2 separate regions of the Homo sapiens genome follow, and region 2 is linked to region 1. A link means that fine-mapping ties the variant in region 1 to the expression of a gene that starts in the linked region. Tissue or cell type: whole blood. Region 1 holds a variant in brackets; the other region holds the start of a gene. All regions are shown on one strand. Distances are between the middles of the regions.

Evidence for each region. PIP is the estimated chance that this variant, and not a neighbour inherited with it, causes the effect.
Region 2: USP40 starts here. The variant in region 1 is fine-mapped to the expression of USP40 in whole blood (TOPMed, PIP 0.96).

The regions. Positions count from the first base shown.
Region 1 is chr2:233,467,688-233,474,115 of GRCh38, forward strand. DGKD (diacylglycerol kinase delta) reads left to right here. Exons shown (of 30, transcript NM_152879.3): 29 at 736-866; 30 at 1,684-4,411. The coding sequence ends at 1,773. Among named protein-coding and RNA genes, the nearest start is that of USP40, 96 kb to the right of the region's middle. RefSeq lists a silencer at 232-447 and an enhancer at 6,170-6,428. The variant A/G (reference allele first, on the strand shown) is at 3,790.
Region 2 is chr2:233,563,710-233,569,292 of GRCh38, forward strand. USP40 (ubiquitin specific peptidase 40) reads right to left here and starts at 3,073. Exons shown (of 32, transcript NM_001365479.2): 1 at 2,975-3,073; 2 at 1,647-1,864. The coding sequence starts at 1,845.

The DNA of each region.
Region 1 (6,428 bases):
AGTAAATTGGAGCTAAACTCTCTGTCTGAAGGATCAGCCCTGAATACCCAGGCCATATCCAGTGCTGTCAGGGGCTGGAGAGGCCTCCAAGCCTGGATATTGGGACTGGTGTTTGCCGCCAGTCAGGGCAGCTCCTGTGGGTTTTTCTTCTTTGCATGTTTGTCCAGAAATGGGGTTTCTGTTAATAATGGTGGCTCTGACTATGTGAATTGAAATCTCTGCTCGTTTCCTTTCCTGCTATGGTCCAGAAGTGAAATTTAACCCTTCTAGAAGCTGGAGGAAAAGCTGGCTTTGGCCACAATCATGAGGACATTTCCCTCATATTTGGTGGTGGTAAATCCCTCCTGGGACACGGGGAAATGACCAGAGGCTGGCGGCCCACCTGGCAGGAACAGATGCCAGCTCTGCTGCAGCCATCGCCCCTTGAGCGGGTGGCTCTGTGCCTCTTTCTGCACTGCTGGTGGGTGGTGCTGTTGGCTGGGTGATGGATACCGGCTGCCAGAGATGGCTCAGGTGCCAGCTGCTGGGCTATCTCAGGCACTGGCTGCTGGGCTATCTCGGGTGCCGGCTGCTGGGCTATCTCAGGCGCTGGCTGCTGCTGGGCTGTCTCGGGTGCTGGCTGTTGGGACGTCTCCTGTCCTGGCACTGGGCTCTCGGGTGCTGGGTGCCAGCTGCTGCCTACCTTGCACTGGGCTCTGGGCACTCACTGCACTCGTGCTTTTCCATCTCCGACAGTTCACCTCTGGGGGACAGAGGAGGTTGCTGCCTGGCTGGAGCACCTCAGTCTCTGTGAGTATAAGGACATCTTCACACGGCACGACATCCGGGGCTCTGAGCTCCTGCACCTGGAGCGGAGGGACCTCAAGGTACTTCCATAGGCGTCTCCCTGGAACCTGCACTTGGGCTTGCACGCAGCTCCCTTCTCTTCCATCCTCTCCCCCGACCTGGCCATGTCCCAGCATCACGATTCTTCTCAGGCTTTCGTGTATACCTCAGGTGGGGGCGGCTGTGGCCCTCATCTAGGCAGTGATGGCTCCACCCACCACAACCAGAGGAAGCCAGGAGCAGACATAATGGGGGGCAGAGCCTTGGTTATCTTAGGCTACTCAGACAAGGACTGTCTTCGTGTTAAAAACACTATGAGGGGACACAGACCCTGAAGCACAGTCACACACGACTGTCCCCATGCTGCTCCTGGGCGGGTGCTGCCACTCGTCTGCAGGGAGCATTGGGAGGGGTGGTTGGGTGCCAGGCCTCGGTCTATGCCAGGCCTCACGCCACATCTTGCAGGCCCATGCCCCTGCCCAGGTTGGCCTCAACGGGCCAACCCCTGGGTGTTGAATCACTGGCTGAGTCCCGAGAGGGCAAAAGGCCACTGTGGGTGTCCTGGACAGTGGCTCTCATGAGGTCACTTGTCATCCACTTGCTTTTAGGCCTGTGTTTTGTCTTTGTCTTGGATTTGTCCTTGCTGATGGTAGTGACTAGAATGCAGGAACAATGGGCCAGGCATCTGTATGGTTGTTACTTTTAAGCTGTTTCCATCTTGTTTTACCGTTTTTGTCATTTTGGCTCTCATTTGTGTTCACAAGCCGAATGGGAAGGGCCGTTGTGGCAGGCCTGCTGTGGAGCCCTCTGGCCCTGGCTGTCTTCTCGGCATCCATGGCGGTGTCTTCTCTGTTGCAGGACCTGGGCGTGACCAAGGTGGGCCACATGAAGAGGATCCTGTGTGGCATCAAGGAGCTGAGCCGCAGCGCCCCCGCCGTCGAGGCCTAGCCTCTGTCCTCTCAGCCTGTGGCCTCCACATCCCCGCCGCCGAGGCCTAGCCTCCGCCCTCTCAGCCTGTGGCCTCTGCGCCTCCTGCCACTGAGGCCCTGGGCAGATGCTGCAGCCCGCCCCCTTCTCATGGTGCTACTTCCTCTGTCAGCTACAGAAAGCCTCCGTGACACCGTCCACCAGAGCTCTGGGGTCTCGAACATAACAACACAGCTACCTTTGAAACAACACTTTCTCCAGCTCAGAGTCACCTGGGGCACATGTGTCACGGCCACTCAGCTCTCGCCCGCCTGTGCTGTGGGCCAGGGAATCCAGCGGCGTCTGGCCTCCTGGGCACTGCTTGCCTGGCCTCGTGCTTGGATTGTCCCGGGGGCTCCTCTCCGTGTGTCCTTCTGTGGCCGCACCGTGTGGCTCCGCCTCCTGGCCCCCAGCCAGTTCTCAGAAACGTGGCTGGGGCCCAGCACAGCAGCCTGCAAGGGCCCCTGTTTGTTGATGCAGCTTTTGTTGAACAAAAATCGTGCTCTTTCCTGGTTTGAAAGTAGCATGGATGTTTCCAGTCTTGTTGATTGTAATTTGACGTGAAGAGAAAAAAAAATTCCTCCTGCGTGAGCCAAGGCAGCGGGTGCTGTTTCCCAGGCGGGGAGCCCCTCCCTGGGTGTCACAGGGCCTGTGCTCCTCCCTCCTCCATCCTCTCTCCTCCCGCTCCTCCCTCCCCCCACTGTGGGCTGGGGACGCCTGCCCTTCTGTCTCCGGACGCTCTAGGCGAGTTCAGCTTGGGGTGTGAGTGAGACAGCTTGCCAGCTGCATCCCTGCAGACAGAGGATGTGTGTCCACATGAGTGTTTCTGTGTGGGAAATGCTTCCTGGCTCTGGGAAACTTTTTCTGCCCATTCTGTGGTTCCCAGGGAGCGTGGCCCTGGTGGGCCAGGGGTGGTTTGACCTCTTCAGCCCGTCCGGTGGCCTGGAGGCCGGAGGCTCTCCTGAGTGTCTGCCCCTGCAGTGGCTTCTTGTCGCCTGCTGCTGGGCGTGATGTCGCTGGAGGTGCTGGCAGGGACTCTGATTTGGTGGTCCGCGCTGCCCCTGCCCTGCCTCTGTCCTGGCTCTGAACTAGTAGATGATGGTGCCAGAGGGCAGGGAGCTCGCCTGGGGAGAGGGCTGTGCCCCGTAGGGACAGTGCCCAGGTGAAGGATGCCCCTGGTCCTCCAGGGCACTGACTTTGCCCTTTTTTCCCGTTGATAGTCATGGCTCAGAGGTGCTTGTAAATGTCTTGGGAAGAGGTTTCTGTAACCCCTGCCCTGGTGTGAGGAGGAAATGGCTCTGGCCTGGCTGCCTGGCCGTGGCTTCTCTTTGGCTCCCAAAGAGAAGGACAGTGTTGGGAGTATCTGCCGTGGCTTCTCTTTGGCTCCCAAAGAGAAGGACAGTGTTGGGAGTATCTGCCGGCGCTGTCCAGGTCCTTTAGTCAGCGTCACTCCATCTGATGTGCAGAAGCTGGGCTGCACCTGCGGGGGTGGGCATAGACCGGGCTGGGTCTGCAGCAGCCCCTGGTCCTGAGCAGGCGGCAGTGAACAGCACTGGCCCACCTCCCACTCACAGCCCCTCTGTCCCCTCTGCAGTGCACCCAGGTGGGCCCCTCTGCGTGCCTTTGGGTGCTCCCCTCTCGTGGTCGTTCTGGCCCGAGGCCCTTAGAGTATGGAGGCTGAGCCAGGCCTTGGGTTTCCCCAGCACAGCCTCCTGTCGCTGCATGCGACGTGTTGGGATTTTTGGATGAAAGACTCTCCCACGCTCTGTTGGTGGACTTAGCTGCCTCACTGGAAGTGATGTGGGTGGAAGGTGGTTGTATGTTACCTTTTCCACCTCTCATTGTTTTCCCCAGAACATTGTAGATGGGGGTTGGCAGAGGGAGAAATAAGCCAGCCACGGCAGTCGCTTGGTTTCCCAGGTGGAATGGGCTAACACAGGAGATGATGGGAACCTGTCCCGCAGTCCCTGCATGACCATTGGCCCTGCTGGCCTGGCG[A/G]TGTGGGCATCCTGGGGTTCTTAGGGTCCCAGAACAAGCCCCAGGCAAGCTGGAACTTGGGTGGGGAGGGGACATGAGGAGGATAAACAGCTGACTGTGGCTTCAAGGACATCAGGGCCACCCCAAGTCCTCAGTGTCCTACTCCTGGCAAGGAGTTGGGTTTGGATCAAAAGTGTTTAAAATTAATATGTTGTCAGTGATTAGAACAACACTGTTTACATAAAAACCATTTTTCTAATTCTAACAAGTTAGAATGTGAGGAAGGAATGAACATGAGTGTTTAGGAACCTGCCCTTTGGTGCTGGGCTGGCGTCCCGCACTGGGGTGTCCTCGCTGTCTGGGGGCTGCTCTGCTGCCCCGGCCCAGGTCCCCTTGTGGTGTTGCCAGACGGGCCTCATGGTCTGCTGTGCAGAGAGAGGCAGGAAGGATCCCTGAAGAGTCTTGGAGAAAAGGTTCTGTGCCCTCAGGTGGGGCTTACCCCCTCGTATTTATAATCTTAATTTATATAGTGACCACCGTGGAAACAAACGCCTCTTGTATTGTCATGTACATAGTCCATACCTGAGTGCTGTACATAAGTTGTTCTGTGTATAAATAAAACAAGCCTGTTTTTGATCTTCCATCGCCAGAGTCTTTGTCATCATTCCTTGTGCTTTGACATAAAGTGTTGGTTGCCGGAATCTTTCCAAACTGGATTCAGAATTGTTTTTCACCTGCTCTGAAAATAGGTTGAGTTGTTGGTGGCTAAAAAGCAAAACAGAATGCCATTAGCATGCCATCAGAATGCCGTTAGAATGCCATTAGAATGCTGTTGTATTTTTTAGGGTGTGGGTTCTGTGATCAGTTGGACTAAAAATTCCGCAAGGAGAGAGAGGGTACTGGGCAGTGCTGAGGCTCTCAGGTGTGACCACACAGCCTTGGCCCGGGAGAATGAGGGCCATTTTAACGAATATTTTAACCCTCTTAAATCTTTTCTATAAAACTGCAAACCTGAAGCTCTCCGACTTCTCTGCTTTGTCTTGGTACTTTTATTTCCAAGGGAACTGTCTACGATCAAGGCCACTTGAATTGTCTTCCCCAGTTTCCTGGAGTGAGGGATGGGGACTGCATTCATGGAAGACACCATCAGGCTGGTCGGGTACAGAAGGGCTGCATGTGCTCCGGGAGTGTTGGCTGCCTCCCTAGCAGCTCTTCCTCACTCCTTCCATGGTAACAAACCCCCCCGTTTTTTTTTTTCTGGTGTATATTCTCCTCTCTGGCCATTCAGGACTTCAGGCCTCATGGTTGCAAGATGGCCACCACAGCTCCAGGCATCACACCAGTGTAAGGTGTTTGGGGACAAATGGCTGCCTCTTTTATGTGTCACCTGCTCTTTTTGTTGTTGTTGTTGAAGATGAGGTCTTGCTCTGTCTTCTGGTCTGGAGTACTGTGGCATAATCGTAGATCACTGCAGCCTCCAAATCCTGGACTCAAGTGATCCTCCCACCTCAGCCTCCCTTGTAGCGGAGAGTACAGGTGCATGACAACATACCCAGCTAGTTTGTAAAATTTTTTGTAGAGACTGGGTCTCGCTTGCTTCCTAGGCTGGTTTTGAACTCCTGGCGTTAAGCGATCCTATGTGTGTCTCTTTTTAAGATAAAGGGAGCCCTTTCCGAAGCTCTGGCTTCAGCCGACCTCCTCTAATGTCTTGGCTAGAACTGCCTCACGCACTCATGACTAAACCAATCAGTGCGAAGGGTACGAGCTATTACGGTGATCGGGATGCTGACGGCTGACACTTTATAATTTGTGCCAGGTGTTGGTCTAAGTACCTTGAATGTACGAACTCCTCTAATTCCCCTCACAGCCTTACATGGTGGGTTATCTGCATTTTACAGGCGAGGGACAGGCTCAGAGAGGCGACACAACTTGCCCCATGAGGCACAGCCAGCGCGTGGCTGACATGGGAGGCAGAGGGCATATCTTTTCGACAGCCGTGCTCTCCCGTGTCCCAAGCCTCATAGCAAGCCCAGCCCACAAGACAGGTGAGGAAATTGGGCCCAAGTGACAGGCATGCTTTCCAGCACAGCAGCCGGGGCGCCTCACGTGCTGGGGGCACCAGATGCCCGGGCAGGGGCAGACCTGGGGGGAGGCTGGTGTGCGCTTTGCCAGCCTCACTCCTGTGCCCGCGTGGCTCATCTCACACGGGGCATGGCTCCATTGTGTGGGAAAGCAGTGAGGAGGGGGCTTCTCACAGAGACAGCATCTGACAGCGTGGGGAGGCCGGGCAGCGATCTAGAGTGGACGGGGCTGCAAGTGTAGCATGATCGCGAGACGGGACAGTAGAGTTGAGTGGAGAAAATGCAGCAGGGTCTATACTGTTTTTAAACTGATCCTCTTCAGAATTCCCCAACCACTTAGAAAAACAAACTGGGTGCTTGGTCCAGTAATGTTAACTGAACCCTGGATTTGTGGCCTCTGTTGTTTGCCAGAAGAGTTTTGCTGTGGTCCCCCCACCCCTTTGTGCCCTGGCTCCAGGTGGGCTCACGCGCGTTCCTTGGCTGTAGGTTACTGGACCCCACCCAGAGCTCTTAGACCTGGGCTAGGAGTGGGTGCAACTCGGAGTCGCCCCTCTGGGGTGGGGGCGGTGTGGCTGGGAG
Region 2 (5,583 bases), 96 kb after region 1:
CTGACAGTCCTTATTCTTTCCAAATTATACCTCCCTGTCAGTCACCATCAGGATTCAGGCTAAGCTATACAAGCAGTGCACATTGTGCACTAAGATGTCAAATCATATGCTTGGCCAGCAATCCCCTCTGCTGGAGAGGAAGTTGGCCTGGGACTCTCAGTACTACTCTTGCCTAATGGTACGCTCCATGACCCGCCCTACACTTCACCATCTTCCTCAGTCCCTTTGAGGCTACGTTTCTACTTCGAGTTGTCCTTTAACTTCAACTATATTAAAACCTGGAAAAGTGTTATCCCTATTAGAAATGTACTTATTAGTGCTGGCAATTTTTACTGGTGGAATTACTGATTGCATCAGGGAGATATTTTTATGGAGGGGATCGAGTCAAGGCTAAGAGGTACCACTTAAATCCCACATGCAATCCAACCCATTAAATTGCTCCTAGGAAGGTAACAGCGGTAAATATTTACTAAATCTCTGGAGGCAGCAAGTCTTTCTAAGCTTAGAAGCAACAGAAGAACCACAAAGATTTGATAAATGTGGTGGCAGTAGGGAAGAGGAACATGGCAAACCAGATAGGATGAGTCAGGCTGTCTGTCCTCCTAATATGGAGACACTGTGGAGAGCTGAGCTACAAAGCCATGTAGTGCTGGGGACCCCAGTCAGGGCCAGGTGAAGGCAAAGTAATGTTCACACTGAGCTCACGGGAACACAGCTCCTAGGACCCTTGTGGAGGAAGCTGGTTTGCAGAGATGGGGTATGGGAGAAATATATAGAGAGAAACAGGGGCAAGAAATCAAGGGTCCAGTAAGGTCAGGCTGGCTTCCTGCAGTTGATTTCTGAGATCCCCTATATTCTTACAATAACCCCCCTTTTAAATTTAGCTAATTTGGGTGGTGGGTCTGTTTCTTGCACACAATCCCTTACCTAAAATCTCTGGGTCTTTGGAATTCAGAATTTCCAGAGTTTATAAAGATAATATGAAAAAAGTGTTTTTTATATATATATAAAATGTTACATTCCCAGCAGGGTCTGGGCCAGCTTCCATTAATCAAGCAGATTAATATTCCTGTAATGAATGTATGAACATTCACCCACATGAGATAACTAAAAACTGTAAATAGCCTCACACCAGGTCTGGTTCTGAAGCCAAACAAGCTCAGGTGAGATCAGATGAGGGTGTGAGCTTTCCAGATTTCAGAAATGCGTATGAACAACTGTGCACCCATATAAATAATATGACACCCTTCCCCACTCCAAAAGGTAGATATAATTGGTTGGATAACTCTGGCTTAAGTGTTTGTTATTCTAGAGAAATCTTAAAACTCAAACAGTGTAACAATAATGAAGACTGATACTTATGACAATTGTCTTTACGTTGTACTTTAAATTACAGGAATTAAAAAAGAAATATATTGCTTTATTTTTTTACTAAACATTATTGTCATCACCCAGGATATATTTAAGATTAAGCTTCACATTTCTCTGCAGAGGGAATTACCAATTTATATCTTATATGTGCAACAATAAACACATACTGTAGAATATATCTTTAAGATAATTGGTCTATTTGTGATTTTGCATAATTAATTACATGTAAAGAAGATGGTACATATTGCTAGTTAAATGTACGTAACATAGCATACCTCTGAATTCAGGTGTGAAATGAAGAGTCTGAAGAAGGGAATTGAGGTAACAGGTTCCACCCTGATTTCTGATTCCGCTTAAATTGGTGAATTCTCTAGGAGCAGGTGGCTCCAAAGCTTTAGTCTTTAATTTCTTCCCTTTTCCATACTGATTATTAGACACAGTGGAATACTCCTCTTCAAACAGGTCCCCAAACATTGTGAAACTAAATACTACCCTTAAAAAAAGTGACATATAAATGCTTTTATTTTTAAAATAAATTTTCCCCAAATCCCCCTACCTTACACTTGGGAGTCGATTCTGTTGTTTCTTAGAACACAGGACTACTGTTTCTATGTACAGTAGTTGGGTTTTGGAGGCAGCAAGATCTAGATTTTTTTCATCCCTATCAGGACCCTAACTACCTGTGTGACCCTGGATATGTTAATCTGTTTTCTTATGTGTAAAATAGGATACCATCTGTCTCTTCGGGTCATTTAAACTATCCAATGACATAACGAAAGAAGGGCAGTTAGTGTACAGGGTTTGGCCCACAATAAGTAACAGCTGTTTTTAAAAAGGCACGTTCACATCACTAATTTTTTTAAAAAAGAAAACCTGTTGCCACAACTAATCCACTGCTGGGACGGCAAAGCCAACCCTAAATTCTGAGAATCAACTCTCTAAAATCTCTGCTTGTCACACCCTTCAGTACTATATACCAGATTATGACATTTAAATTAAACAGATCAAGTTAACTTTTTTTAGAGCACTTTAGTACAGTCCCGAAGCTGTTGGGCCGGAAGTCAGTTCACTGGGGAGGGAGGGGGGAAGGGGAGCGGAGGGCGGGGAAGACTGCCACTAAAATTATCAAGCCTAAAGGCCTTCCAGTATGTATCCACTAATCCCATCGTTAGCCCTGGGGGCCTAGGTGACTTCCCCAAGGTTTCACATCGAGTGTGGCGGAGGGTCACTTGGAGATGAGAAACGTAAAGCGCCTAGCATAGGTACCAAATGACAGGAAGCGCTGAAATGCAATTATTTTTCTTTTCCTCAGAAGAAAACTAAAAAAACACAACTCGAGAGTCTAGCCTCGAGCTCGTTGTCTGCATTCCTGAATTCCCAACTCCTACGGCCGGCCGAGGCCCTCCAAGCCACCACAGGCCCAGGGGCGCAAAAAGGCAGAGGTCCCCGTGGCCCGAAACCACTGCCCCGACTCCAGGAGAGCGCCGCGTCCTCAGGCAGGCCTGGGCAGCCTCTCGCCTCGCCCTCCTCAGACTGGGCCACCAACACTGTCCCTACGCTTCCCACGTCCCTCCCAGGATCCCCGGGCGCCAGCCGCACTTACTGCCTAAAGCCCAGACCCCCGCCCTGGCCAAAACGCGAAGCGAACGAACCCGCCCCAACTGGGCGCCGCCATGTTGGCGAGGGCGGGTCTCCAGAAAGTGATTTATGGATCGTGGACTATGCTTCCCAGGATGCCCCGCTGGAGCGCCGGCCCCTCGCACGGGGCCTTATGGGAAATGTAACTCTTCTGCTCCAAGAGTTTGGGAACTGGAGCGGGAGCGGGAGCGGGCAAGGTGAGCTCGCTTACAAGTCCGCTGGTGAGTTCGCGGGTCCACTCGGCCAGCGGACCACTCATTCGTTCACATTTATAAGATTATAGCTATATGATCTTATATAAGATTATAGCTATATGATCTTATATAAGATTATAGCTATATGATCTTATATAAGATTATAGCTATATGATCCTTATATAAGATTATAGCTATATGATCTTATATAAGATTATAGCTATATGATCTTATATAAGATTATAGCTATATGATCTTATATAAGATTATAGCTATATGATCTTATATAAGATTATAGCTATATGATCTTATATAAGATTATAGCTATATGATCTTATATAAGAGTATAGCTATATGATCTTATATAAGAGTATAGCTATATGATCTTATATAAGAGTATAGCTATATTATAGCTATATAACCTTATATAAGATTATAGCTATATAACCTTATATAAGATTATAGCTATATAACCTTATATAAGATTATAGCTATATAACCTTATATAAGATTATAGCTATATAACCTTATATAAGATTATAGCTATATAACCTTATATAAGATTATAGCTATATAACCTTATATAAGATTATAGCTATATAACCTTATATAAGATTATAGCTATATAACCTTATATAAGATTATAGCTATATAACCTTATATAAGATTATAGCTATATAACCTTATATAAGATTATAGCTATATAACCTTATATAAGATTATAGCTATATAACCTTATATAAGATTATAGCTATATAACCTTATATAAGATTATAGCTATATAACCTTATATAAGATTATAGTTATATAACCTTATATAAGATTATAGTTATATAACCTTATATAAGATTATAGTTATATAACCTTATATAAGATTAGTTATATAACCTTATATAAGATTATAGTTATATAACCTTATATAAGATTATAGTTATATAACCTTATATAAGATTATAGTTATATAACCTTATATAAGATTATAGTTATATAACCTTATATAAGATTATAGTTATATAACCTTATATAAGATTATAGTTATATAACCTTATATAAGATTATAGTTATATAACCTTATATAAGATTATAGTTATATAACCTTATATAAGATTATAGTTATATAACCTTATATAAGATTATAGTTATATAACCTTATATAAGATTATAGTTATATAACCTTATATAAGATTATAGTTATATAACCTTATATAAGATTATAGTTATATAACCTTATATAAGATTATAGTTATATAACCTTATATAAGATTATAGTTATATAACCTTATATAAGATTATAGTTATATAACCTTATATAAGATTATAGTTATATAACCTTATATAAGATTATAGTTATATAACCTTATATAAGATTATAGTTATATAACCTTATATAAGATTATAGTTATATAACCTTATATAAGATTATAGTTATATAACCTTATATAAGATTATAGTTATATAACCTTATATAAGATTATAGTTATATAACCTTATATAAGATTATAGTTATATAACCTTATATAAGATTATAGTTATATAACCTTATATAAGATTATAGTTATATAACCTTATATAAGATTATAGTTATATAATCTTATAAATATGAATGAATGAGTGGTCACATTTATAAAGATATAAGATTATATTTATATAATCTTATATCTTTGTCTTTCGTCTGTGAATCAAACTAATGGCATGTCAAAGTATTGTCTGGACAATCCTTTCATTCCATAGCTTCCTCTCCTCCTATCAGATCCCCATGAAATCTCACCTGCATTAGGATGATAGCCTTTTCAGTGGACTCCCGTTTTACACACCCCTTCCTGCACGTCACTATAAGATGCACTATCCATCTAAGGTGCACTTTGAGCTCAAACCTCTCTGCTAAAGAAGCTTCCACGATTTCTCAACATCCACTGTGGAAATTCTTTATTTTGATTCTTAGTTCGCTGATGGTCCCAACATTCTTTTCATACTGTATTTCTCACTACACACCTATTTACCAAAGTGCTTTCAAATGTGCCATCTATAAAGCTGCTAATCCCTGAGCCTTTAAGGGAAAAGATAAACACCAGCTGCAAGTCTTTTTGTTTTATGATAAAAAGCCCTGTACAACGAAAACACTTTTTCTGGTTTGGTTCCATGAAAACCAATGCTCTGTCCCTGAAGTCAGGAAGTACCTTGCCAGTAAGGGACTTCCTTTTAAATTGCTTTTGATATTGGACAATGTCCCTGGCCACCCAGAACCCCATAGATTCTGCAATGAGAGCACCAAAGTGGCCTCCTTGCCCCTAAACACAACATGTCTAATTCAGCCCTTAGATCAAGGGGTCATAAGGAACTTTAAGGCTCATTACGTACGGTTTTCTATGGAAAGGGGTGT